4 linked regions of the Homo sapiens genome follow. The protein of the gene in region 1 interacts with the protein of each later gene in a pairwise test. Each region holds a gene or a part of one and is shown in the gene's direction. Other genes may lie near its edges. The genes, in order: TMEM130, OLFM4, PIGF and NKG7.

The links.
Region 2: the proteins of TMEM130 (region 1) and OLFM4 interact in binary tests that used the Homo sapiens proteins (3 or more experiments, as listed by UniProt).
Region 3: the proteins of TMEM130 (region 1) and PIGF interact in binary tests that used the Homo sapiens proteins (3 or more experiments, as listed by UniProt).
Region 4: the proteins of TMEM130 (region 1) and NKG7 interact in binary tests that used the Homo sapiens proteins (3 or more experiments, as listed by UniProt).

What each region holds. Positions count from the first base shown.
Region 1 is NC_000007.14:98,846,011-98,853,040, reverse strand, and holds the end of TMEM130 (transmembrane protein 130 isoform b precursor), read left to right. Parts: intron 1-1,417; coding exon 1,418-1,620; intron 1,621-4,345; coding exon 4,346-4,458; intron 4,459-4,796; coding exon of another isoform or gene 4,797-4,832; coding exon 4,833-4,985; 3' UTR 4,986-6,551; downstream 6,552-7,030.
Region 2 is NC_000013.11:53,045,813-53,052,587, forward strand, and holds the end of OLFM4 (olfactomedin-4 precursor), read left to right. Parts: intron 1-4,156; coding exon 4,157-4,959; 3' UTR 4,960-6,245; downstream 6,246-6,775. UniProt on the Homo sapiens protein: May promote proliferation of pancreatic cancer cells by favoring the transition from the S to G2/M phase. In myeloid leukemic cell lines, inhibits cell growth and induces cell differentiation and apoptosis.
Region 3 is NC_000002.12:46,607,030-46,614,059, reverse strand, and holds part of PIGF (GPI ethanolamine phosphate transferase, stabilizing subunit), read left to right. Parts: intron 1-274; coding exon 275-366; intron 367-1,715; coding exon 1,716-1,832; intron 1,833-7,030.
Region 4 is NC_000019.10:51,371,107-51,377,596, reverse strand, and holds NKG7 (protein NKG7), read left to right. Parts: upstream 1-4,942; 5' UTR 4,943-5,061; coding exon 5,062-5,218; exon of another isoform or gene 5,219-5,289; coding exon 5,290-5,436; coding exon of another isoform or gene 5,437-5,522; coding exon 5,523-5,657; intron 5,658-5,761; coding exon 5,762-5,820; 3' UTR 5,821-5,977; downstream 5,978-6,490.

The sequences.
Region 1 (7,030 bases):
GAGCCTATGCTTGTGGAATGTGGATAACTTGGAATGCCCTTATCCTTTCTCACCCATCAAACGTTCATTTATCCATTCAGATCTGCTCAAATGCCACCTCCTCCAGGAAGCCTTCTCTGGCTACCTCATTAAGAATGCTCTCATGGTCAGGGACGGTAGCTCATGTCTGCAATCCTAGCACTTTCAGAGGCTGAGGTGGGTGGATCACTTGAGGTCAGGAGTTAAAGATTAGCCTGGCCAACATGGTGAAACCCTGGTCTCTACCAAAAAATACAAAAATTAGCCAGGCACGGTGGTGCATGCCTGTAATCCCAGCTACTTGGGAGGCTGAGGTGGAAGACTCACTTGAACCCAGGAGGCAAAGGTTGCAGTGAGCGGAGATCGCACCACTGCACTCCAGCCTGGGTGACAGAGTGAGACTCTGTCAAAAAAACCCCACAAAAACAAAAACAAAACAAACAAACAAAAAACAACTCTCTCATGCTGGTTGCAGTGGCTCATGCCTGTAATCCCAGCACTTCAGGAGGCTGGGGCAGGAGAATACTTGAGGCTAGGAGTTGGAGACCACCCTGGGCAATATAGTCCCATCGCTATTAAAAAATTAAAAAATTGGCCAGGCGCAGTGGCTCACGCCTGTAATACCAGCACTTTGGGAGGCCGAGGCGGGCGGGTCACCTGAGGTCAGGAGTTTGAGACCAGCCTAGCCAACATGGCGAAACCCTGTCTTTACTAAAAATACAAAAATTAGCCAGGCATGGTTGTGTGTGCCTGTAGTCCCAGTTACTTGGGAGGCTGAGGCTCGAACCCGGGAGGTGAAGGTTGCAGTGAGTCAAGATCGCGCCATTGCACTCCAGCCTGGGCAACAGAGTGAGACACCATCTCTAAATAAATAATTAATAAAAAATTAAATTAAATTAAATTAAAAAATTAGTTGGGCATGGTGGCTGGTGCCTGTAGCCCCAGCTACTCGGGAGGCTGAGGCAGGAAGATCGCTTGAGCTCAGGAGCTGGAGGCTGCAGTGAGCTATGATTGAGCCACTGCACTTCAGCCTGGGTAATAGAGTGAGTCCCTGTCTCGTAAAATGCAAAACACAAAAAGGGGGATGTGCTTATTATTCCCCTGGGCTTCTATGGTACACCATGTGTGCCATCAGACCGCTCATCCTGCCTCCAGTGAGCAGTCTATGCGTATCTCTGTTGGCCTTATTCACTTGGAATTCTCTTGGGGGTCCGGGACCATCTCTTTTGCACCATAGTGTCCCCTGGTCTGGAATGCATGAAGCTGAGTCCAGGACGGCTTGATGTCCTGTCCTGGAAAGGACACTGAAGTTCCTGCCCACCTGGCCTGTCTTGGACTTGGTCTGTGCTGACATGCTTTGCTGAGCCTTTTCTTAAAAACCGCCCCCATTTCCCTGCAGCCCTCCTCTGACTGTGTGCTGGCGTCTCAAGCCTGAGTGCCTCCCGCTGGAGGAAGGGGAGTGCCACCCTGTGTCCGTGGCCAGCACAGCGTACAACCTGACCCACACCTTCAGGGACCCTGGGGACTACTGCTTCAGCATCCGGGCCGAGAATATCATCAGCAAGACACATCAGTACCACAAGATCCAGGTGTGGCCCTCCAGTAAGTGACACCTCGCCTTCTGCTCCAGTGCCACATGGGCAGCACAAGCCTGTCCATCCTGCCACCACCACCAATACGCTCCTACCAGCCAGCCTTACCAAGGTCCTCAGCAACAAAGCCCGCTAGCATCAGCACCATCCATAACCCCACTGACTCCAGTGACCGCCAACATCAGCGCTGGCCAACTGCCAATACCACCACCACCAAACTCTCCAATCCCACCAGCAACCAACTCTGTCAACCCCAATATGGCACCCATCGATTCTACCAGCACCACCATCAACACCAGCACCACTAACAACTGTAACCAACTCAGCTACCACCATTACCATATGCTTTCCTGACAACTCTTCCAGGACCACCATTGCCACCACTAACGACTCTATAAGCATTCTCACCAAGTCACCTCAATGACCCCGACCCTACCCACATCTATAAGCCCATGCCACCACCTGCCCCAATGCCAGCTTTGTGGACCGAAAGCAACCATGCCAATGTCTTCTCCCACATATTTCCAAGACCACACGTCCCCAGCACAAACACTTTTGCGCCAAATGAGCCACCATGATTGCAGTGTTCCCTCCCTCATCACCATCACCCCTGCCCCAGCAGTTGCCACTGCTAAAACCAGCATCCCCAACAGTAACTCTACTCAACTCACAGTGTTGTAGTGAGTCTTGCAGGGAGAAGGCATTGCATATTGTTAATAAGGATGCCTGGGCTAGGCATGGTGGCTCCCAGGACTCTGGGAGGCTGAGGCGGGTGGACTGATTGAACCCAGGAGTCTGAGACCAGCCTGGGCAACGTGGCAAAACTCTGTCTCTACAAAAGATATAAAAATAGGACAGATGCGGTGGCTCGTGCCTGTAATTGCAGCACTTTGAGAGGCCGAGGTGGGTGGATCACTTGAGGCCAAGAGTTTGAGACCAGCCTGGCCAACATGGCAAAACCTGTCTCTACTAAAAATACCAAAAAGTTAGCTGGGTGTGGTGGTGGGAGTCTGTAATCCCAGCTACGCAGGAGGTGGAGGCATGAGAATCCCTTGAACCTGGGAGGTGGAGGTTGCAGTGAGCTGAGATTGAGCTGCTGCACTCCAGCCTGGGCCACAGAGAGGCTCTTGTCTCAAAAAATTAAAAAAAAAAAAAAATATATATATATATATATATATATGAGAGAGACAGAGAGAGAGAGAGGGATTGAGAGAGAGAGAGAGTGGCGTGTGCCTGTAGGTCTCTGCTATGCTACTCGGGAAGCTGATGTGGTAGATCACTTGAGCCCAGGAGGTTGAGGCTGCAATGAGCCAAGATCACACCACAGCACTCCAGCCTGAGCGACAGAGTGAGACCCTGTCTCCAGAAAAATAAATAAAAAATAAAAAAGAGAAAAGGATGCCCAACCTTCTTTCTTGAAATACCTTTCCAAAACTATCATCGGCCCAGCCCCTGGCTTACGATTGTGGGCTTTGCTGATGACAGCATTGGGTTCTACACTTCATTTTTATGGAGGACTCTGGGAGCCCCAGAGAAGTACTTCCTTACATAGAGTAGGATCTCAGGTCCTGAAGGCACTGTCTTTCAGATGCCCAACCTACTTCTACCTTTGATGCTACAAAAGGGGAAACTAAGGCACAGGGAGGCAACAAGACTGGATGTCAGCCTGAGCCTGAGCCAGGGTTTCAGATTCCTGGTCCTGGGGTAGGAGTTAGTTCTTCCCAGTGCTCCCAAGCTCATGCCAAACCCTGCCAGCTGCACTTGTCTTCAAGGTTGGTCCTATGGATGCACCTGAAGCTGTCACTGTCCCCTCCAGTTTCCCCAATCCCACTCTGGGCCCCTGAGAGGATGCTACACTCAATCTTGGCCCTGGCTTACTTTGTGGGCATCATCAGGTCACTTGAGCCCTGCATCTCTCAGCACCCTCTGGGGACCAAGTTCCAATCAGGAACCCCCTGAATTCTGCAGAGAAGACAGCAGTACAGGTAATCAATGACAACTTTTCTTTGGAAACAGACCCTCATGGCAGAGGGTGAGGGAAAAGGGAGAGGGAACCCACACTTCCTGATCACCTACCACATGCCACACACATCAACACCCCTCTTCTTGTTGCATCTCCTTAGCAGTCTTGCAGGTCAGCATTAGCATGAGGTAGCCTATTCAGAGCTAGGATTTGAACCCAGGACTGTTCAACTTCAGACACTGGACTCTTTCTACCATACCATTTCATAGCAACAGGTTTATTGGGTGAGCCTGCAGTTGCCAGAGCGTGAGAAGCTGAAGCAGGGGACACAGTGCTGATTGGGTGACCTCACAACATGGCTGCCCTTCCCAAAAGTGTGTCACCCGAGAGAGCAAAGAGGGAGCTGTGGTGTCTCTTATGGCTTAGACTCAGGAGTCATGCACTGTCACTCCTTTCATCTGCTGTACACTAGGAGCTGGTCGCTGAGTCCAGCCCTCACTCAAGGTGTGAGGAATTTAGCTGCCCCTCTTGGAAGTTGCTACCAAGTAACTTGTGGATGTATGCTGAAAGCCCCCTACCCAGACCCCAGTTTATTTTTTGTGAAGTCCTGGATTTACCTATTGGGGTTGCCCAGTTGGGATGCATGTACATGAGGGTAAAAAAAATCACTGGTGGGGCTTGACCATTCCCTCCTTTGTTGTGCTTGCTTCCTGAGAACCAGCACTGTAGTACCAGCTACCCAGTCCTGTAATGTTACTTCTTTCATTCCCAGGAATCCAGCCGGCTGTCTTTGCTTTCCCATGTGCTACACTTATCACTGTGATGTTGGCCTTCATCATGTACATGACCCTGCGGAATGCCACTCAGCAAAAGGACATGGTGGAGGTGGGTACTCAGTGGGGTGGGGGCTGGACTACTGGGCCTTGCCTAGAGAGGATGTTTAGAGAGGGTATGGGGGCCAGGCCAGGATGCCTGGAGGGGGTCTTGATATTACAGCGAGGCTCCGGGACTTGGGGTGATGTGCCCAAGAGGCATCTGTAGACCAGGAAAAATTGCTAAGTTGGTGTCCCATCTGATTTATCTCCTATATCCATCTCTTGCATCTGTGTGGTGCCAGAAAGGTGTTTCTGTGCACTCTGCCACCAGGCAGCTGAGCTCATAAGGCCACCTGATGGGGCTCCTGGTGGGTGGGTGATTGACCCGTGGGATTTTGTTCATCATAGGTGGCTGATTTTGACTTTTCCCCCATGTCTGACAAGAACCCGGAGCCACCCTCTGGGGTCAGGTGCTGCTGCCAGATGTGCTGTGGGCCTTTCTTGCTGGAGACTCCATCTGAGTACCTGGAAATTGTTCGTGAGAACCACGGGCTGCTCCCGCCCCTCTATAAGTCTGTCAAAACTTACACCGTGTGAGCACTCCCCCTCCCCACCCCATCTCAGTGTTAACTGACTGCTGACTTGGAGTTTCCAGCAGGGTGGTGTGCACCACTGACCAGGAGGGGTTCATTTGCGTGGGGCTGTTGGCCTGGATCATCCATCCATCTGTACAGTTCAGCCACTGCCACAAGCCCCTCCCTCTCTGTCACCCCTGACCCCAGCCATTCACCCATCTGTACAGTCCAGCCACTGACATAAGCCCCACTCGGTTACCACCCCCTTGACCCCCTACCTTTGAAGAGGCTTCGTGCAGGACTTTGATGCTTGGGGTGTTCCGTGTTGACTCCCAGGTGGGCCTGGCTGCCCACTGCCCATTCCTCTCATATTGGCACATCTGCTGTCCATTGGGGGTTCTCAGTTTCCTCCCCCAGACAGCCCTACCTGTGCCAGAGAGCTAGAAAGAAGGTCATAAAGGGTTAAAAATCCATAACTAAAGGTTGTACACATAGATGGGCACACTCACAGAGAGAAGTGTGCATGTACACACACCACACACACACACACACACACACACACACACACACACAGAAATATAAACACATGCGTCACATGGGCATTTCAGATGATCAGCTCTGTATCTGGTTAAGTCGGTTGCTGGGATGCACCCTGCACTAGAGCTGAAAGGAAATTTGACCTCCAAGCAGCCCTGACAGGTTCTGGGCCCGGGCCCTCCCTTTGTGCTTTGTCTCTGCAGTTCTTGCGCCCTTTATAAGGCCATCCTAGTCCCTGCTGGCTGGCAGGGGGCTGGATGGGGGGCAGGACTAATACTGAGTGATTGCAGAGTGCTTTATAAATATCACCTTATTTTATCGAAACCCATCTGTGAAACTTTCACTGAGGAAAAGGCCTTGCAGCGGTAGAAGAGGTTGAGTCAAGGCCGGGCGCGGTGGCTCACGCCTGTAATCCCAGCACTTTGGGAGGCCGAGGCGGGTGGATCACGAGATCAGGAGATCGAGACCACCCTGGCTAACACGGTGAAACCCCGTCTCTACTAAAAAAATACAAAAAGTTAGCCGGGCGTGGTGGTGGGTGCCTGTAGTCCCAGCTACTCGGGAGGCTGAGGCAGGAGAATGGTGCGAACCCGGGAGGCGGAGCTTGCAGTGAGCCCAGATGGCGCCACTGCACTCCAGCCTGAGTGACAGAGCGAGACTCTGTCTCCAAAAAAAAAAAAAGAAGAGGTTGAGTCAGCAGGGACTTGGGTTCCCTGTGTGTGAGGGGGGCATTCTTGCCTGCCAGCTGCTCCCGAGGTGGCCTTGAGAAGGAAGAAGCAGGATGACAGAGCCTGAGCAGCGGAACCAGCCTGCACCCTCCCTTCTGGCCCAGCGACCTGGGCTGTGGCTGAGACAATAATGAGGCCAGAAGTAGCCGGAGCCTGTCAGGAAGGGCAGGGGAGGACTGTGGGGTCTGGGCTCTGTCGCTGTAACCATCTGCTCCCAGGCTGTGTGCAGAAAATGGCATTTACACTATTGTGCAGCTCATTCTCATGAAATACTGCCATTGTTGCTAAATAAAGCTTGTGTGCTCTGAATATAGCCAAGCATAGACGGTGTGGCCAGAGTCTCTCTTTTGTGCATGGACGTTTTTGCCTTGCAGACAGCAACGGCAGTGCTGTGACGCAGCAGGACATCCCACTTGTCCTCTGTGGTGAAGACAACTGAAGGGAGCCAGTTCAGGTCCCTGGAGGTGGGGAGAGCTGTCCCCAGGTGACTTGGACATGCATCCCTGTCTGAGACCTCAGGGGGATTCTAGAGCCAGAGGAGGAACGTGGACCACACCTGGGGACGTGTTGGAAATGCAGACCCTTGGGCTCGACCTGATACCTGAAGCAGTGCCTGGGTAGGGGGGCAGCCACCTGTTTTCACAAGCCCTCTGCGATTCTGGTGCATATCAGGTATGAGAACCACTAGTCTCTAGCAGGCTTCTTAAACTTTGAGGTTCATGAGAATTGCTAGAGATCTTGGTAAACAAGAATTTTCATTTTGGAGGTCTGGAGTGGGGCCTGGGATTCTGCGTTTCTTTTA
Region 2 (6,775 bases), on another chromosome or scaffold:
TCATAGAACTTTCTAATCTAAAATAATTGGCCTTCTACTCATTAACTTTTTTCCCTTAAAACTTCAGTCTGTCTCTGTTTTGCCTGTGAATCTAAATGACTGTATATAGGCCAAATGTGATCGGGTGCTCAGGGGTTGATCTCCAGTTTGCTTGGGGATGCAAGGTTCTGTGCTGGTCCATAGTGATGCTCAGTAAGTAGCTGATGATTAAATGGGGTCTGAAAGAAATGGGGTGACCTGCTAAAATCTCAAGCTTAGGGAAGAGCCACATGTTGAACAGCATATATCCAACACTTCAGAGTCAATTTAGTCTTAATCATTTTATGACTATGATTGTTTTAATTGCCTAATTCTTATAAGTCAATCATATTCTCCTCCTGGCTCAAACAAAGTTCAGTTGCCCAGTTGAGAGAGTGCATTAATAGATCCAAGACTAATTTTCCTCTGTAGGCATATAATTATTGGCTTCAAAAAAATGCTACTAACCATGATACTTTTAAAAAGCCAAGTCAGAATATTTTAAATTCTCATGATTATGGCTTCCTCAGGTATTTTCAGAGTACCATGGTGCCATCTAATGAATTGCATGATGAAGAGAGTGCCAACCAAGGCTAAACTTCTATAGAGGGTTCCTCAAATTATGTTCCATGGAGTAAATGCCAGGCTTTTTGAAAAACCAGATATGTAGCAGGGTAGAAGGCTAGTGTTTTATAAATAAGGGTAAGCTGAGTTTAGGTGACTTGATTAATCTTTCATTCCTTTATTCCACAAACATAATTTGGTGCCACTGTGTGGCTGGCCCTGTTCTGGGTACTGGGGTTACCAGCATGAGTAAAGAAACCTCCAGAAGCCACTATCTAGGAAATGAGACATCTAAACCTCCAGTTGTAACATGATGTGATTATATTGAGATATTTACCATTTACTGAGTAACATTTACATGTCTTCTCTGTATTTTTCGTAACTATTTTGCAGAGTTGGTATTATTTTTCTTCTGACATGAGGAAACTGAGGCTCAGAAGGTTAAGTAACTTGCTCAAGGATACACAACTACTGTTGGAATCAGGCTTTGAATTAGAATCTGTCTAGTAGTATTTTCCATACTAGGCTGCCTTCCATAGCTGCTCTAACAGAGAGGTGCACCTGTGATTTCTGGAGTGAAAAGAAAATTCCAACAACTCACCTATCTGCTTAACACCAAATTATTTTTGCTTCCTTGGTAGTGGAGTAGGTAAAAGGGTACTGTTGCTCCTGACAGTTCTGTGCTGTGTGTTCTCTTCCACCAGAAAATGCAAAATGATTCAATGGTCTTTCAGAATTCTTGGATCATGATTGGGCAATGGGCTGTTGCCCAAGTGTCAGGGTGAAATTGGGATGGAAACTGGGTATGAAGTATGGAATGAAGTATGTCTAAGACCTTGACATGAAGGAAGGGGCTGGCAAGGAGCATGAGATAAGGGAGGGTGGTGAGAAGCTCAGTGAAGATGGGATGGGGGGATGGGGACTCTGAGGAACAGTGGGCACTGGACTGGCTGTCAGTTTCAGTATCGTGTCCAAGATGGTTTGCTGCCAGGAGTCGAGGAAGCCCGCCATAGCATTTTTCCTGGTCTGACATTGTTGTGGCCACATTTGTAGCATTGGCAGCAATGTTGAGTTCTCATCCCCATTTCCACTTCCTTTCTACCACAGCCGGGGCCCTAAAAATAGCCCTTTATCCTTACCCATAGAGGATAAAAGGAGGATAACAAATGAACAGGAAAGTGTTTAGGAATGTTTGGGAGGTGAGAAAAACAAAGTTTCATACATTTTAATATTTACACTGGGCAATTTGAATTTTCTGGTCAACTTATGAAATGATGAGCCACTATTACTATTAGTAGTAGTAACAATAGTAATAGTACTAATACTATTATACTAATAATAATGCAATTAGTTTTATGATAATAGCAGTAGTAATAGTAATTTTTTGAGAAGTTTATTTTGGTTCCTTCATGTCTAAAAATTTCCACATCTGGGGACAGAATAGTTTAACCTCTTGGTAGTGCTTGAATAAGTTATATGCATCATCAATTTTCCTTAAATATTTTGTTGCTGTCGGTTTGGGATATTTTCTTTTCAGGAAGGCAAGACTCAATGAAGCAAACAATTATTGTCTTCCAACCTGAAAGAAAAAAAAGTGACTTTCCTCAGAGTGAAATGTAGTTAAATAAATAAGTTCTCAGGAAGATACTTTAGCTAGAAAATCCAGTTTGTAGCATATGGAAACTTGAACAGTTTTTGTTATCATTAAACTGAACACACCGCTAACTTTATTTTAATAATTCATGCATTGTTTCATAAACAAAAGCAAACAAGCATTCATCTGAGAGATCACTTTTAGTAGAAGAAATAATAATTTATAATTTTATTTATTATTTCTTCAGTGGAGAATAGTCTCTTGGCTGAAAACACGTTGCTTTTTTATTTATGAAATGGCACATGCATTATTAAAATAAACCTGTGACTGTGTTCTGCTTAATGATATGCAAAATTATTTGAGGTTGGATACAGAGTGGTTTCATTTCTCTACCTGTTGTATGGTTGGCTGGCTTTCTCACCAACTGTGGATTTATGAGAGCATTTAAGGAGCATATATTTAATTCTGGGACCAAAAAGCCCCAGCCGATTGGAAAAATAAAAACAGAATTTCTAGTAATGGTTTCACCTTTGAGCAGTCCTTGGGTGAGGAGGATGGGGAGGGAAAGCATTTAGCAAGGAAAGGAATGGGTCTTTCCATATTGGACACAGCAGAGACCCAGAGACAAAGGCTTTGCTCCCCCTTCCCCGCCTCCATGCTAATCTCAGGCAATTCTTTGGAGCTCTGCTTTTGGCTCCAGCTCACCTCATGTTCCTCAATGGCTCTCTGAGTCCCTGCAAGTATTTCAGGCCAAATCCAACAATTCAGGTTCTGCTCCTTTCCTGTCTCACCTGCTCTGCTCTGAGCAGCAGGACGAGGGAAAATGACCTCAAATATACTTGAAGTTGGGTTTTCTTTGTTATCCAATAAACCATCTCATGAGTTTTTTTGAGTGTTAAGATCCCAGAAAATGTGTGTTCAACTCTTTGGATAGTTATTATAAAAATACTGGAGGAACTTTATTTTATTTTTATAGCTCATAAACTCCTGGGATGGCAGGCATTTCAGCGGGAGTACAATGTGAAGGGTTGATCGCCCAGACTGAGTTATTTACCCAAGTGTTACAGGGAATGTAGATTCAGTGGACCAGTGAATCTTGTCCCACTTGATTGTACACATTGTGACAATGACAGTGTCTGGATGGAAAGATGAAATACTTGCATGTCATTCTATGGCACAATAGCATATGGGTTATGAACAGCAGGACTCACCATGTAACTCTGCAGCAGGACGGTCAGCAAGTGATTTATTGATGGGCTGTGCATTGGGTACGGAGCAGGCAATGTTGCCCCAAAATAACTTTATGGCTTCTCAAGGGTGAAATCCCACCATTATAGGACCATCTTTCTGGATCTATAAAATGCTATATTTAAAACATCCTCTTCTGAGAATAGCTTAAAGCAGGATTGGTACCTGGCGTGGATGTGCAATTGGGGGTCCCAAGGAAGGGGAGAGTGAGGAAGGGCATGAAGCCTTGCCTGGGAAAATCTTCTCCCTCATCACTATTCTTTCTGGGATAGATTTCTATAAATCTTGTGGATTTATAGAAATAGGGTAGGATTGTGGAATAATCTTGCTTCCTTGATTTTGCTATAAGAAAAACAAAATAAGATAATATTTGCAAAATGCTTTCTGATAGAAGGAAATATATTAAATTCACCAAGTCTCCCTTTCCTCTCTCTGGGCCTCCAAACTTTTTAAATATAGTTCTTGCTGGTTTCATTATTCCTATTTTCCAGATTGAAAGCCCACCCATGGAAACAGAATGTAGTTCTCTGTAGAGCTGACATTGGGTTTGCATTGAGACTGAATGCACTGAACTAAGAGGAGGTTTGGCTCTTCTCCATCAGAACCACTGTTGTTATTGAACCTTGACAGGAAAAATATTTATAGATTCCTTTGGTGCTTAGGATATTAAACTATTTGTATCCTGTCATTCCTTTTCTCTAAAAATGCCTTTTTATTTTCTTGTTTGTATAGGGAGCTGTGGTCATGGTGGTGTGGTGAACATCAGCAAACCGTCTGTGGTTCAGCTCAACTGGAGAGGGTTTTCTTATCTATATGGTGCTTGGGGTAGGGATTACTCTCCCCAGCATCCAAACAAAGGACTGTATTGGGTGGCGCCATTGAATACAGATGGGAGACTGTTGGAGTATTATAGACTGTACAACACACTGGATGATTTGCTATTGTATATAAATGCTCGAGAGTTGCGGATCACCTATGGCCAAGGTAGTGGTACAGCAGTTTACAACAACAACATGTACGTCAACATGTACAACACCGGGAATATTGCCAGAGTTAACCTGACCACCAACACGATTGCTGTGACTCAAACTCTCCCTAATGCTGCCTATAATAACCGCTTTTCATATGCTAATGTTGCTTGGCAAGATATTGACTTTGCTGTGGATGAGAATGGATTGTGGGTTATTTATTCAACTGAAGCCAGCACTGGTAACATGGTGATTAGTAAACTCAATGACACCACACTTCAGGTGCTAAACACTTGGTATACCAAGCAGTATAAACCATCTGCTTCTAACGCCTTCATGGTATGTGGGGTTCTGTATGCCACCCGTACTATGAACACCAGAACAGAAGAGATTTTTTACTATTATGACACAAACACAGGGAAAGAGGGCAAACTAGACATTGTAATGCATAAGATGCAGGAAAAAGTGCAGAGCATTAACTATAACCCTTTTGACCAGAAACTTTATGTCTATAACGATGGTTACCTTCTGAATTATGATCTTTCTGTCTTGCAGAAGCCCCAGTAAGCTGTTTAGGAGTTAGGGTGAAAGAGAAAATGTTTGTTGAAAAAATAGTCTTCTCCACTTACTTAGATATCTGCAGGGGTGTCTAAAAGTGTGTTCATTTTGCAGCAATGTTTAGGTGCATAGTTCTACCACACTAGAGATCTAGGACATTTGTCTTGATTTGGTGAGTTCTCTTGGGAATCATCTGCCTCTTCAGGCGCATTTTGCAATAAAGTCTGTCTAGGGTGGGATTGTCAGAGGTCTAGGGGCACTGTGGGCCTAGTGAAGCCTACTGTGAGGAGGCTTCACTAGAAGCCTTAAATTAGGAATTAAGGAACTTAAAACTCAGTATGGCGTCTAGGGATTCTTTGTACAGGAAATATTGCCCAATGACTAGTCCTCATCCATGTAGCACCACTAATTCTTCCATGCCTGGAAGAAACCTGGGGACTTAGTTAGGTAGATTAATATCTGGAGCTCCTCGAGGGACCAAATCTCCAACTTTTTTTTCCCCTCACTAGCACCTGGAATGATGCTTTGTATGTGGCAGATAAGTAAATTTGGCATGCTTATATATTCTACATCTGTAAAGTGCTGAGTTTTATGGAGAGAGGCCTTTTTATGCATTAAATTGTACATGGCAAATAAATCCCAGAAGGATCTGTAGATGAGGCACCTGCTTTTTCTTTTCTCTCATTGTCCACCTTACTAAAAGTCAGTAGAATCTTCTACCTCATAACTTCCTTCCAAAGGCAGCTCAGAAGATTAGAACCAGACTTACTAACCAATTCCACCCCCCACCAACCCCCTTCTACTGCCTACTTTAAAAAAATTAATAGTTTTCTATGGAACTGATCTAAGATTAGAAAAATTAATTTTCTTTAATTTCATTATGAACTTTTATTTACATGACTCTAAGACTATAAGAAAATCTGATGGCAGTGACAAAGTGCTAGCATTTATTGTTATCTAATAAAGACCTTGGAGCATATGTGCAACTTATGAGTGTATCAGTTGTTGCATGTAATTTTTGCCTTTGTTTAAGCCTGGAACTTGTAAGAAAATGAAAATTTAATTTTTTTTTCTAGGACGAGCTATAGAAAAGCTATTGAGAGTATCTAGTTAATCAGTGCAGTAGTTGGAAACCTTGCTGGTGTATGTGATGTGCTTCTGTGCTTTTGAATGACTTTATCATCTAGTCTTTGTCTATTTTTCCTTTGATGTTCAAGTCCTAGTCTATAGGATTGGCAGTTTAAATGCTTTACTCCCCCTTTTAAAATAAATGATTAAAATGTGCTTTGAAAAAAGTCATCTTTTGTTTTATTTAATTTTAATTTTTTTTTAAAGCTCTTAACAGGGTAGTCCATATCTTGCTATGAGGTTGGGAGAATGGCTACCTCCCAAACACTAGTGCGGGGAGATTGCACACCTAACAACAGATCACATCAATAACTTTTATAAGAGCCCAGAGTTAGGCTGGCTCTTTCATTTTTCTTTCCCTTTAAAATCCACTCTTTCTGGCAGCTTTTATTGTACATGACTGCCCTATTATCTTTTGGGATATGACCTTATGTACTTATTAATTTGCATGACTGATCTGATTATTTCCAATGCTAGACTACATTTATGTAGCTTATGTTCCTTTTCCAATTGAGCTATGAACATGGATCAGAAGCCTCTGGATCTTCCCCAGACAGGAGGACTTGGGCAGAAAGCAAAAGGACTAACTGGCTATACCAGGAAGAGAAGTACCTTTACCAAAGAGAATATGTAAGAAGACAGGTGACCTAGAGCTGGAAGGACACAGTGGACTGATGTAGTTAGTCTTACTGAAATG
Region 3 (7,030 bases), on another chromosome or scaffold:
ATATTACCATGGAAACAGAACCTCTTTTCGACTCATGTAGGTCGGATGGGTAGAATATGGGCGGAAGGTGGTATTTGCCTTTTAGGCTTTTTTAGTCTGTATCGAAGGCTGTGTATGTGACGGTACAGGACATGTGATCTGATTTGAGTATACCCAAGAACATTTGAACTGTTTTACACATTATGGGAACAAGTTGTGTTTGTAGATGAAATGGAAGAATTTATTGTCCTTTAAGCATTATCTTGAATCTTCAGGTTATTCATTTCTCTTTTAGGTAACTGGATTTTTGAAATGCTGTATCTACTTTCTTATGTCTTGTTTCTCCTTTCATGTAATTTTTGTTCTGTATGGAGCACCACTGATAGAGTAAGTTTGAAATTTTTACCCTAAATTTATATTTTAAAACATTCATTTACCAAACTGTGTGCTAATTCTTAGCAACTAGAGAAAAACCATGATGTGCATCATTAATAGATCAAGTAAGGACACCAACATCATTAGCAGTGTTATTCTTTTTTAAAAAAAACAGCAGAATAACTTAATTTATTAAATACTCTTGTTACCTAGCCTTCTAGTATCCAATTGCATGTTGAGAGAAGGGAGAGTAGAGAAACTATACTATACCAATAAGTATTTGGCCCTTAGAACCTCTGAAAGAACTTACTATGATTATATGTGTAAGTTATAATTAGCATATCAGTTCTTATAAATGTGATTCTAAAGTACTTGAATGGAGTTTTTCTTAACAAAAGTCAATAGATTCCTGTATTCAAATACTGAATAAGCTGGTGTTTATAGTTTAAAGGTAAAATTTAACACTTTTTCTGAACTGACAAATTTCAAATTCTTAGAAACAAAATTCATGAATGTTTCTTACATAATGTTTATCATAGTTTGAGAAGCTTCAGTTTAGCAGTGATTAATGATCATGGTGAAATGAGTGATGAGATACATATACATATACACACACATATATTTGTGTTGCTAAGTATACCATTTTATATATATATATATATTTATACATAGTTTTACGTACACACACTAAACTGACAGGTTATTCTTTTCTAGATGGGAGAGAACAAGACCTTTGTAATGGAAAATGGTGGTTCCTGTCTAATCCATTTTAAAGCAGAATGAATGTGTCTGGCACAGTGGTTCTCAAAATGTGGTTTTCAAACCAGCAGCATCAGCATTTTATCAAAATGCAAATACTCAAGCTTCAGTCAGAAACTCTAGGGGTAGAGCCCCCACCAATCTTTAGTTTATCCAGCTCTCCAGGTGTTTCCAATATATGTTAACCACTAGTTGTAGAGAACCACTACAACTAGTATTCAATAGTGGTTCAATAGTGGTTCAATAGTGTATTGAACCACTAGTTGTAGAGAAAGTTCCAGAGAGACTATTGAGCAGAAAGCTAACTATCTAGAAATGGATTTTGTTTGTTTGTTTGTGTTTGCAGTGAAAGTCTCAGCATGGATCCTAGGGTCTTTAACACTTCTGAAATCTATCATTAAAGCGAAATACTTGCTAGATTGTTTTTTAAAGCTACATGTTGGTGGTAAAATTATTTATAGTCATCATTTTGGTGGCATTCATGTTACCTTTCAAAGTAAAGCATAGGAAGATATTTCACATTTTATTTATATAATAAAGATTATGTATGTGTATGTTTACCTTTAACACTTTTTTAAAAAGTAATCTTTTTTTTTTTCTAGGTTGGCATTGGAAACATTTTTATTTGCAGTTATTTTGTCTACTTTTACTACTGTGCCTTGCTTATGTTTGTTAGGACCAAACCTCAAAGCATGGCTAAGAGTGTTCAGTAGAAATGGGTAAGTTTTAATTTTATATTATAATGATATTGAAATTAAAAAATAATTAATGAAGTATTTTTCTATTCATGGCAGTTTGCTGATTATTCTGAGTGCTTCTCATTGCTGATGGTGCTCAGAGATGCCTTAAGGGGTCACTGCAATTAGGGACTGGGGACAGGGCAGGCAGAACTACAAGCCCCTCCCTCCACGTTAGCAAGATCAGCTCTCCTTTTTTCTGTATGGTAGAATTCCACCTAGCCTTTTGTTTGTTTAAAAAAAAAAAGAAGAAGAAGAAATAAAAAAAAATTCTACTATTAAAAGAAAGCCTTGAAAACCATGGTTCTGGGATAATTTGGCACTGTGATAAGACTGCTGTAAATAAAATTGCTTACATACATTTTATAAGGTAGAAGTGGGGTCCACAATCTAAAAATGTGTTGTGTAACAATGATAATTTCTTGTTTAGCCTTTTTTGTGATAAGATACCAGAGCTCAAGTTTTATGAGATTTCATTTCCTTGGTGGCCGTATATATTTTCAGCATGGCTAAGTTAAAATTTTAGCTTCTTGAAAGTCATTTAAATGATATGCACCAGAAATAGTGGAGATCTAGCTAAGAAAGCCAGAAGGTTATTTGATTCTTTCCTATTTATCACCCAGCAGCAAGAACTTCTTGAGCACTTAGTCTGTGCTCTGTGTTATTGTGTTATGCTAAGCTGTGTGTGGTTTCTGAAGTATTAGGAGGAATCTTTTTTTTTTTTTTTGAGATGGAACCTCGCTCTGTCGCCAGGCTGGAGTGCAGTGGCATGATTTCGGCTCACTGCAACCTCCATCTCCCAGGTTCAAGTGATTCTCCTGCCTCAGCCTCCCAAGTAGCTGGGACTACAGGTGCATGCCACCATGCCCAGCTAATTTTTCTATTTTTAGTAGAGACAGGGTTTCACCACACTGGCCAGGATGGTCTTGATCTCGACCTCATGATCCGCCCGCCTCGCCTCCCAAAGTGCTGGGATTACAGGTATGAGCCACCACACCCGGCCTTATTAGGAGGATTCTTTTGCTGAGGAGCTTATCTGTTCAAGGGACAAAAATGAGCAAATAACATCAGATTACAAATGTGTAAATCCAGCAATAAGTGGTGTAGGAACTCAAAGGGACAGAGCATCAGTAAAGAATGGAGGGGGAGATGGGAATGATCTATGATGGACTTAAGTCAAGAGTATATGATTTGGTGAGACCAAGAAGGAAGAGAAAGGCACCTCGTGCAAGGAGAATGGATAAAAGCATTGAAACTGAAATGAACAGGGTATTTTTGTGTGATTTGAAAGGTAACAGCCCAATGAGAGCAAAAGATGCATGCTGAGTAGCTTGGCTTCATAAATTACCGACTTATTCCCTTTGAAATCAGTACTGTTTGGGACGAGTGTGGTGGCTCACGCCTGTAATCTCAGCACTTTGGGAGGCCAAGGCGGGTGGATCACCTGAGGTCAGGAGTTCAAGACCAGCCTGGCCAACATGGTGAAACCCCATCTCTACTAAAAATACAAAAATTAGCTGGGTGTGGTGGCGGGTGCCTGTAGTCCCAGCTACTTGGGAAGCTGAGGCAGGAGAATTGCTTGAACCCAGGAGGCGGAGGTTGCAGTGAGCCGAGATCGCACCACTGGACTCCAGCCTGGGCAACATAGTGAGAATCTGTCTCAAAAAAAAAAAAAAAAAAAAAGGAATCAGTACTGTTTTCCCTTGGAACCGTCTTCTAATATTCATAAAGTCTCTAGAAAACAGAAGTGTAACAACTGAAAGCATTTTCTACATTATTACCATAATATCCCAAATGGTATTAATTGCTTTTAGCCTTTTAGTTTGAAATTTTTAAATAGTGAAATTGGATTGAAATCTTATTACTTTGGATTAGTGATTTCTCCAGTTTTCAAGTCTATGTCTAATAATGGGTGTATTTGGGGGAAATACTGTCATGTGATTTTACAATTAGTTCTGCTATAATGTGGCCTGTGTGTTCCTAAAAATCACTACGCTGTACAAAATGGGCAGTAAAAACCACAGAGCTTATGGGAAAGATGGGGTTAGGTCATAACACTAAAACAATTCATCAGTGACATGTAGAGAGAAGATGGGAACTTAATAAAAATGGTAGCACAGTTTTACACGTTTAAAATGGTTACAAAATACAGGCATACCTCATTTTATTGTTCCTCACTTTATTGTACTTCTCAGATATTGCTCAGATCAGATACTGTTTTTTATAAATTGAAGGTTTGTGGCAACCCTGCATCAAGCAAATGTATCAGCGCCGTTTTTCCAACAGCATGTGTTCTCTTCATTGGAAACTCTCACAATATTTCAAGCTTTTTCATTATTATTATATCTATTATGGTGATCTGTGGTCTTTGCTGTTACTTTTTGTAATTGTTTTGGGGCACCATGGCTCATACCCATATAAGATGACGATCTTAATAAATGTTGTACATCTTCTGACTGCTTCACCTACCAACGTGTTCTCTCTGTCTCTCTCCCTTCCCCACCCTCCCTCTCTCTCCCGTCCCTGTTCCCTGAGATACAAAAATATCAAATTTAGGCCAGTTAATAACCATACTATGGTCTCTTAAGTGTTCAAGTGAAAGGAAAATTTTACTTGTCTCTCACTTTAAATCAAAAGCTAGAAGTGATTAAGCTTAATGAAAAAGTTAAGTTGTCAAGAACTGAGACAGACTAAAAGTGAAGCCCCTTGTGCCAAATAGCCAAGTTGTGAATGCAAAGGAAAAGTTCTTAAAGGAAATTTAGTCTACTCTAGTAAACACATGAGTGACAAGAAAGTGGAACAGCCTTACTGCTGATGGGGAGAAAGTTTTATGGTCTGGATGAAAGATCAAACCAGGTACAACATTCTAAGCCAAATCCTAATCCAGAGTAAGCCTCTCACTCTCTTCATTTCTGTGAAGGCTGAGAGAGGTGAGAAAGTTACAGAAGAAAAGTTTGAAACTAGCAGTGGTTGATTCATGAGGCTTAAGGAAAGAGGCCATCGCCATCACATAAAAGTGCAAGGTGAAGCAACAAGTGCTGATGTAGAAGCTGGAGCAAGTTATCCAGAAGATCTAGCTAAGATTGTTGGTGAAGGTGGCTAAATAACAGATTTTTAATGTAGACAAAACAGCCTTCTATTGAAAGAAGATGCCATCTAGGACTTTTAAAGTTAGAGAGGAGAAGTCAGTGGCCACCTTCAATGCTTGACAGGCTGACTCTCTTGTTAGGGGCCAGTGCAGCCAGAGACTTTAGTTGAAGTCAATGCTAATTTACCATTTTGCAAATCCTAGGGCCCTTAAGAATTATGCTAAATCTACTTTGCCTATATACTGTCAATGGAACAACGAAGTCTGGATGACAGCACATCTGTTTATAACATGGTTTACTGAATATTTTAAGCTCACTTTTGAGACCTACTGCTCAGAAAAAAAAAATCCTTTCAAAATATTGCTGCTCATTGACAATGTGCCTAGTCACCCAAGAGCTCTGTTGGAGATGTACAAGAATATTAATGTTTTTTTCATGCCTACAACACAAGATCCATTCTGTAGCCCACGGATCAAGGAGTAATTTTGATTTTCAAGTCTTATTACTTAAGAAACACATTTTGTAAGGCTATAGCTGCCATAGATAGTGATTCCTCTGATGGATTTGGAAAAAGTAAATTGAAAACCTTCTGGAAAGGACCATTCTAGATGGATGCCATTGAGGACATTTGTGATTCAAGGGAGGAGATAAAAATATCAACATTGACGAGAAGCTGATTCCATTCCTCATGAATGATGTTGAGAGGTTCAGGACTTCAGTGGAGGAAACCACTGCAGATGTGGTGGAAATAGCCAGAGAACTAGAATTAGAACAGGAGCCTGAAGATGTGACTGAATTGCTGCAACATTATGATAAAACTGGAACAGATGAGGAATTACTTCTGGATGAGAAAGAAAATGGTCTCCTGAGATGGAATCTACTGGTGAAGATGCCATGAATATTGTTGAAATGACAACAAAGGATTTAGGATATTGCATAAACTTAGTTAATAAAGCAAAGCAATGGCAGGGTTTGAGAGGGTTGACTCCAATTTTGAAAGAAGGTCTACTCTGGGTAAAAGGCTGTCAAACAGCATGGCACGCTACAGATCAATCTTTTCTGGAAGGAAGAGTCAATTGATGCAACCAACTTCATGGTTAAAATTTCACTTTAAGAAATTGCCGGCTGGGCGCAGTGGGTCGTGCCTGTAATCCCAGCACTTTGGGAGGCTGAGACAGGCAGATCACTTGAGGTCAGGAGTTTGAGACCAGCCTGGCCAACATGGTGAAACTCTGTCTCTACTAAAAATACAAGAAAAATTAGCTGGGCGTGCTGGTAGGCCCCTGTAATCCCAGCTACTTGGGAGGCTGAGGCACAAGAATCACTTGAACCCAGGAGGCAGAGGTTGCAGCGAGCCGAGATTGTGCCACTGCACTCCAGCCTGGGCGATAGAGCGAGACTCAGTCTTAAAAAAAAAAAAGAAAAGAAATTTCCACAGCCTCCCCAACCACCACCCTGATCAGTCAGCAGCCGTCAACATCAAGGCCACATCTTCCACCAGCAAAAAGATTACAACTTGCTGAAGGCTCAGATAATTATTAACATTTCTTAGTAATAAAGTATTTTTAAATCATGTGCATTTAAAAAACTAATGCTATTGCCCACTTAATAGACTATGATACAGTAGAAATATAACTTTTATATGCACTGGGAAACCAGAAAATACATATGACTCACTTTATTGTACAATTTGCTTTATTCTGGTGGTCTGGAACCAAATCTGCAGTATCTAAAAGGTATGCCTGCACCCAAATATTACAATAAACATAGCACTTTTCCTTGGAAAAGGTTTCCTTGGTAAAGGTTTGCTTCTGGAAATAGACATGAGAAGGGTTGCCTATTGTGAGTTATTGCGAAGTGATGAGATGGTTGTTGGAAATCTGAGGGAAAATTAACACCAGATGTGCGTATGTGTGGCTCATGACACGTAGTAAACTGAGGTAGCTGGGAGGTGGTTATTTTTTAAAACAGTATTGAGATATAATTCACACACCGTACACATCATCTATTTAAAATATACAATTCAATGACTTTTTGCAACCACCAATCTACTTACTGTCTCTATAGATTTGCCTATCCTGGAAATTTGTT
Region 4 (6,490 bases), on another chromosome or scaffold:
CTGACTTACATAAAGTAAGTGCTGTTTATTGACTTACATAAAGTATTATTTATTGAAATGTACTCTAATGATACTGAGATTTAATATCTTTTTATCATTATAATAGCCATTAAATATTATGACTAGAGTGCACCTCAATAGAAATGATGATGCCTTCCATAATAACTGTTTACCATTAGCATTCATTTCTTTAATAGAACGTAGGTTAATTGAGGATTAGTCTTTTTAAATTTTATTTTATTTTATTTTTTTTGAGATGGAGTCTCACTCTGTCACCCAGGCTGGAGTACGGTGGTGCGATCTTGGCTCACTGCAACTTCTGACTCCCGGGTTCAAGCGATTCTCCTGCCTCAGCCTCCCGAGTAGCTGGAATTACAGGTGCACGCCACCACTCCCAGCTAATTTTTTGGGGTCTTCCGTGGCAGATGGGGGCTACTGAGGAGCTTTCAAGCCCGGGAGAGGTTGGAAGGGGCTGGAGAAAGTTGGAAGAGACCTGGGTGATTCAAAAAAACTGACAGTGCTTAGACAAGACTGACAGAGACCTAAGAGAACCAAGTGGCCAAGCAGGCGACGTGAGCTGTGAACCCCGAAAATCTGAGACAGGTCTCAGTTAATTTAGAAAGTTTATTTTGCCATGTAGTCACAGCTACTCAGGAGGCTGAGGCAGGAGAATGGCGTGAACCCGGGAGGCGGAGCTTGCAGTGAGCCGAGATCGTGCCACTGCACTCCAGCCTGGGCAACAGAGCGAGATTCCATCTCAAAAAAAAGAACAATAGAAAGTTTATTTTGCCAAAGTTGAGGACATGCGCCCGTGACACAGCCTCAGGATGTCCTGACGACATGTGCCCAAGGTGGTCGGGGCACAGCTTGGTTCTATACATTTTAGGGAGACATGACATATCAATCAATAGATGTAAGAAGTACATTGGTGCATCCAGGAAGGTGGGGACAACTCAAAGCAGGGAGGGGGATTCCACGTTACAGGTAGGTGAGAGACAAATTGTTGCATTCTTTGAGTTTCTTTTTTCCTAGATGGAGTCTAACTCTGTTGCCCAGGCTAGAGTGCAGTGGCACAATCTCGGCTTACTGCAACCTCCACCTCCTGGGTTCAAGTGATTCTCCTACCTCAGTCTCCTGAGTCTGAGACTACAGGCGTGCACCACCATGCCCGGCTAATTTTTGTATTTTTAGTAGAGATGGGGTTTCACCATGTTGGCCAGGCTGGTTTTGAACTCATAACCTCAGGTGATCCACCTGCTTAGGCCTCCTAAAGTGCTGGGATTACAGGCATGGCCTCTTTTGAGTTTCTGATAAGCCTTTCCAAAGGAGGCAATCAGATATGCATCGATCTCAGTGAGCAGAGGGATGACTTTGAATAGAATGAGAGGCAGGTTTGCCCTGAGCTGTTCCCAGCCTGACTTTCCCCTTTAGCTCAGTAATTTTGGGGCCCCAAGATTTTCCTTTCACAGAGCTCTCAGGAAAAGCTTCAGAAGGAGGCCTGGGGTTTTCCTCTGGCAACCACAGACCACATCTGGTTGAGAAAGCTGCTGGAGATCCTGCGAGCAATTCTGTCTTCAAGGCCCCAGCTGCCTTGCCTTTGTGCTCTTAAGAGATGGTCTTGGCTGGCTGGGTGCGGTCACTCACGCCTGTAATTCCAGCACTTTGGGAGGCTGAAGCAGGTGGATCACCTGAGGTCAGGAGTTCGAGACCAGCCTGACCAACGTGGAGAAACCCCGTCTCTACTAAAAATAGAAAGTCAGCCGGGCATGGTGGCGCATGCCTGTAATCCTAGTTACTTAGGAGGCTGAGGCAGGAGGATCTCTTGAACCTGGGAGGCAGAGGTTGCTGTGAGCCCCGATCATGCCATTGCACTCCAGCCTGAGCAACAAAAGTGAAACTGCGTCTCAAAAAAAAAAAAAAAAAAAAAAAAAAAAGATGACCTTCACTCACCCGCTCTTACTGGCTTGTGGTGTCTGTCAGAGGGCCTGGGCCTGTGATCAGCCTGTGATACCTACATGTGCAGAGACTCACTGGAGCCAGGTACAGGTCACCTCTGTGTATGCATGCATGCATGGGTGTGATGGTGGTGGTAGTGGGACCCACTTGGGGAGATGAGAAATGAGGTTACAGGCTTGGACCTGGAGGTGAAAGGAGAATGAAAATGGTCGGAGTTAGGTATGAATTATAGAGGTTGCAGAGAAGAATGAAAAGACAGTGGCTGGGCGCAGTGGCTCACTCCTGTAATCTCAGCACTGTGGGAGGCTGAGGCAGGTGGATCACCTGAGGTCAGGAGTTCAAGACCAGCCTGGCCAACATGGCAAAACCCCATTTCTACTAAAAATACAAAAAAAAAAAAAAAATTAGCCTGGTGTGGTGGCGTACAACCATAACCCCAGCTACTCAGGAGGCTGAGGCACAGGAATCACTTAAACCCAGGAGGCGGAGGTTGCAGTGAGCCAAGATCATGCCACTGTACTCCAGCCTGGGTGACAGAGTGAGACTCCATCTCAAAAAAAAAAAAAGGGTTGGGATGGGAATGAGAATAGGGTCAAGTTTCAGGAAGAGGATGGGGTTGGGTTTGGAGTAGGGGCTGGGGTTAATAATGGAGAGGGGTTTGGTTTGGAGATAGGGTGGGGTTTCAGAATGAGAATGGAGTTAGATTTGAGGGTGGGAAGGGTATAAGGGTTGGAACTGGGAATAAGGATGATGTTGAGTTTGGGAATTAGAATGACGTTAGGTTTGGGGATGGGGGCGAATCGGGGGATGGGGTTGAGTGTGTAGTTGGGACTGAGAATGGAGTTCTATTTGAGGATGGGGGTTGGAGCTAGGGTGGAGATTACGAATAGGGATGGGATTGGGTATGGAGTTGTGTTCAGGAATGGGAATAGGGTTAACTTTGGGGATAGGGATGGGTTGAATTTGTGGTTGGAACTGGGCTTGATACTGAGTTTGGGGATGGAGTTGGGTTTGGGGTTAAGGATGGCTTTGGGTTTGGGAGGGGGTCAGGGTCACAGATAGATAGGCTGTGTGCTCTGACCTGCTACTCACTGCACACCATGGCAGGTTTTCCGGAGACCTGGCCTGCTCATGGCCTCTGCCACCTCTGGGAGCCTGTGCTCATAAATGTGTTCTCAGAGTGGTGCAGATCTGAGTGAAGGATGGGGGCTGCCGATCTGAGTCTCTCCAATAAAGGAGAGGAACCAGTCTTCCAGGTCATTTCCCATTCTCCACATTTGCCAGCTGTCCTGGGACTGCTGGACCAGTTCATCTCCAAGACAGAGGTCCTCTTCCAGACTACTCCCTATGTATTAGTCTATTCTCACACTGCTATAAATAACTGCCTGGCCGGGCGTGGTGGCTCACACCTGTAATCCCAACACTTTGGGAGGCCAAGGTGGGCAGATCACCTGAGGTCAGGAGTTAAAGACCAGCCTGTCCAACATGGTGAAAACCCGAAAATCTACTAAACCTGAAATCTACTAAAAATACAAAAATTAGCTGGGTGTGGTGGCGGGCACCTGTAATCCCAGCTACTTGGGAGGCTGAAGCAGGAGAACTGCTTGAACCTGGGAGGTGGAGATTGCAGTGAGCCGAGATTTTGCCACTGCCCTCCAGCCTGAGTGACAAGAGTGAGACTCTGTCTCAAACAACAACAACAACAACAACAAATGCCTGAGACTGGGTAATTTATAAAGGAAAGAGGTTTATTTGATTCACAGTTCAGCATGGCTGGGGAGGCCTCAGGAAACTTACAATCATGGTGGAAGGTGAAGGGGAAGCAAGCCACTGTCTTCACAGAGTGGCAGGAAGAAGGCCAAGCGAAGGCAGGAAGAGCCCCTTAAAAAAACACCATATCTTGTGAAAACTCACTCACTATCACAAGAACAGCATGGGGGAAGCCGGCCCCATGATTCAATTACCTCCACCTGGTCTCTACCTAGACACGTGAGGATTATGGGGACACAATTCAAGGTGCGATTTGGGTAGGGACACAAACCCTAACCATATCACCGTTTCACAGAGGTCAAGTTTTCCTGGGCCTTCTACCTGGGCTGTGGTACCGTCACCTTATACCTGCTCGTAGATGAGGTGTTGCCAGGACCTGATGGTGTGGATGGAAGAGGCTAGCGTTTGGGGGGCTGGAGAACCCTAAACCAAAATCCTTATGTCCCCCAACACCCCCTAGGCCCCCCGATCCTGGTGATAAAGGCCACCAGGCTGGAGCCCCCACCCAAGCAGGGATGCCACTGAACTCATTAATCAGATGAGGATGTGGGTATGTCTGACTCTCTGCAAACCTTTCAGAATTGTGATTCTCTGCTGTTTGCCTGCCCTTGGCATATGCTCCAAACTGGGGCCCAGGATTCTGAGCTCCTGCCCGCCTCTTCCTCCCTCAGGACCTGGAGTTCAGGCCCCCAGCTCCTTCCTCCTTAAGCCCCAGGAGTTCTAACTCCCAAGTCCCCTCCTTCAGTAGAGACCCTAGACTTGGGGACTTCCTCTCCCAGAATGGAAGACTGCATAACCCACAGGAAAGCATGACACATCCCCAGCTGTCCCCTCCAGCCACATCTGCCCTCCCCCTTAATGTACACCCTAGCCTGATTGGCTTCCTCCCACCTCAGGGCCCCCAAGCCTCTCTCTCTCACCTCTTCCAGGAAGCCCCGACTTGGTGTTGAAGGTTCCATGGGTGGGAGTTGTAGAATCTGTGACAGAGGCAAGTACTAAACCACCGCCCAAACCACTGATGATCTGACACCCTCAGTGCCCTCCCCCATCACACACTAAGCGGGGAACTGGACCCCAGGGAGGGGAGGGAGGACGTTGCCTGTGCAATCCAGGAAGGGAGGGTATGTGAAAAGCTACCGGGAACTGTGTGAAACCAAACCAGCCTCATGTGACAAAGCGCAGGACCCCTCACTGCCCCAACTGCTTGCTGTTCTCTCTTTCTTGGGCTCTAAGGACCCAGGAGTCTGGGTGCACAGCCTCCTTCTCTCTGAGATTCAAGAGTCTGATCAGCAGCCTCTTCCTCCTCCAGGACCCAGAAGCCCTGAGCTTATCCCCATGGAGCTCTGCCGGTCCCTGGCCCTGCTGGGGGGCTCCCTGGGCCTGATGTTCTGCCTGATTGCTTTGAGCACCGATTTCTGGTTTGAGGCTGTGGGTCCCACCCACTCAGCTCACTCGGGCCTCTGGCCAACAGGGCATGGGGACATCATATCAGGTAAGGGGAATGGGTGTCCTACAGAGGGGTTGCCAGCGGGGATGGGTGCTCAGTGGTCTTCTCCCGATCAGGCTACATCCACGTGACGCAGACCTTCAGCATTATGGCTGTTCTGTGGGCCCTGGTGTCCGTGAGCTTCCTGGTCCTGTCCTGCTTCCCCTCACTGTTCCCCCCAGGCCACGGCCCGCTTGTCTCAACCACCGCAGCCTTTGCTGCAGGTAAGGACTCTGGACTGGACTGGGGCATCGCGAGCCAGCGAATTCCTGCCGAGGAGCTGAGCCATCTCTCTTGTCCTTGTCCCCAGCCATCTCCATGGTGGTGGCCATGGCGGTGTACACCAGCGAGCGGTGGGACCAGCCTCCACACCCCCAGATCCAGACCTTCTTCTCCTGGTCCTTCTACCTGGGCTGGGTCTCAGCTATCCTCTTGCTCTGTACAGGTGACTATCCTGCCCACTGCCCTGGGGAGCTTTGGGAGGGTCCAGTTGGGGTCCCTGAGGACAGAGGGCAGGGGCAAGTGCTTAAACTCTTTCTGGCTCCCCAGGTGCCCTGAGCCTGGGTGCTCACTGTGGCGGTCCCCGTCCTGGCTATGAAACCTTGTGAGCAGAAGGCAAGAGCGGCAAGATGAGTTTTGAGCGTTGTATTCCAAAGGCCTCATCTGGAGCCTCGGGAAAGTCTGGTCCCACATCTGCCCGCCCTTCCAGCCCTTCCCCAGCCCCTCCTCTTGTTTCTTCATTCATTCAACAAAATTTGGCTGGAATCTGGTTATTTTGAGATTAATTCTGCCAAGACATAAGCCAACTGTCTGCCAGCTCCATGGTAGGAGCTGGGCACCAAGGGAAGGTGAGGGCCCACCAGGCCGACCAGCCTGCAGGGCGCTCCTGCCCAGTACGAGTGCCCGGCCCGTGTGGACACAGGCTCCAACCCGTGTCTATGTCTCCCCTTCTCCAGCACTTTTCTTCCTCCCTGTGTCTTTCTCCCTTTAGCTGGCTCTCTTTCCTTCTCTCTCCCTCTCTGATTTTGTCCCCCTTGCCAGAACTCAGCCCTTCCTTGCACTCAGTCAGTTCTCTTTGCACATTTCCCCATGCTGGGGACACTGGCACGGGTCAGACCCAGGCCCTGCCCAGCAGGGGCTCAGTCTGTGGGGTGGTGGGGAGGAGGCACTTACAGACCAGAAGCAGTTAATACAGGCCAGACAGCAGTCCCAGTGCAGGGAGAATGCCGGAAAAAGACTGACCATATTGTGGAGGGATGGAGACGACTTTTCTGGAGA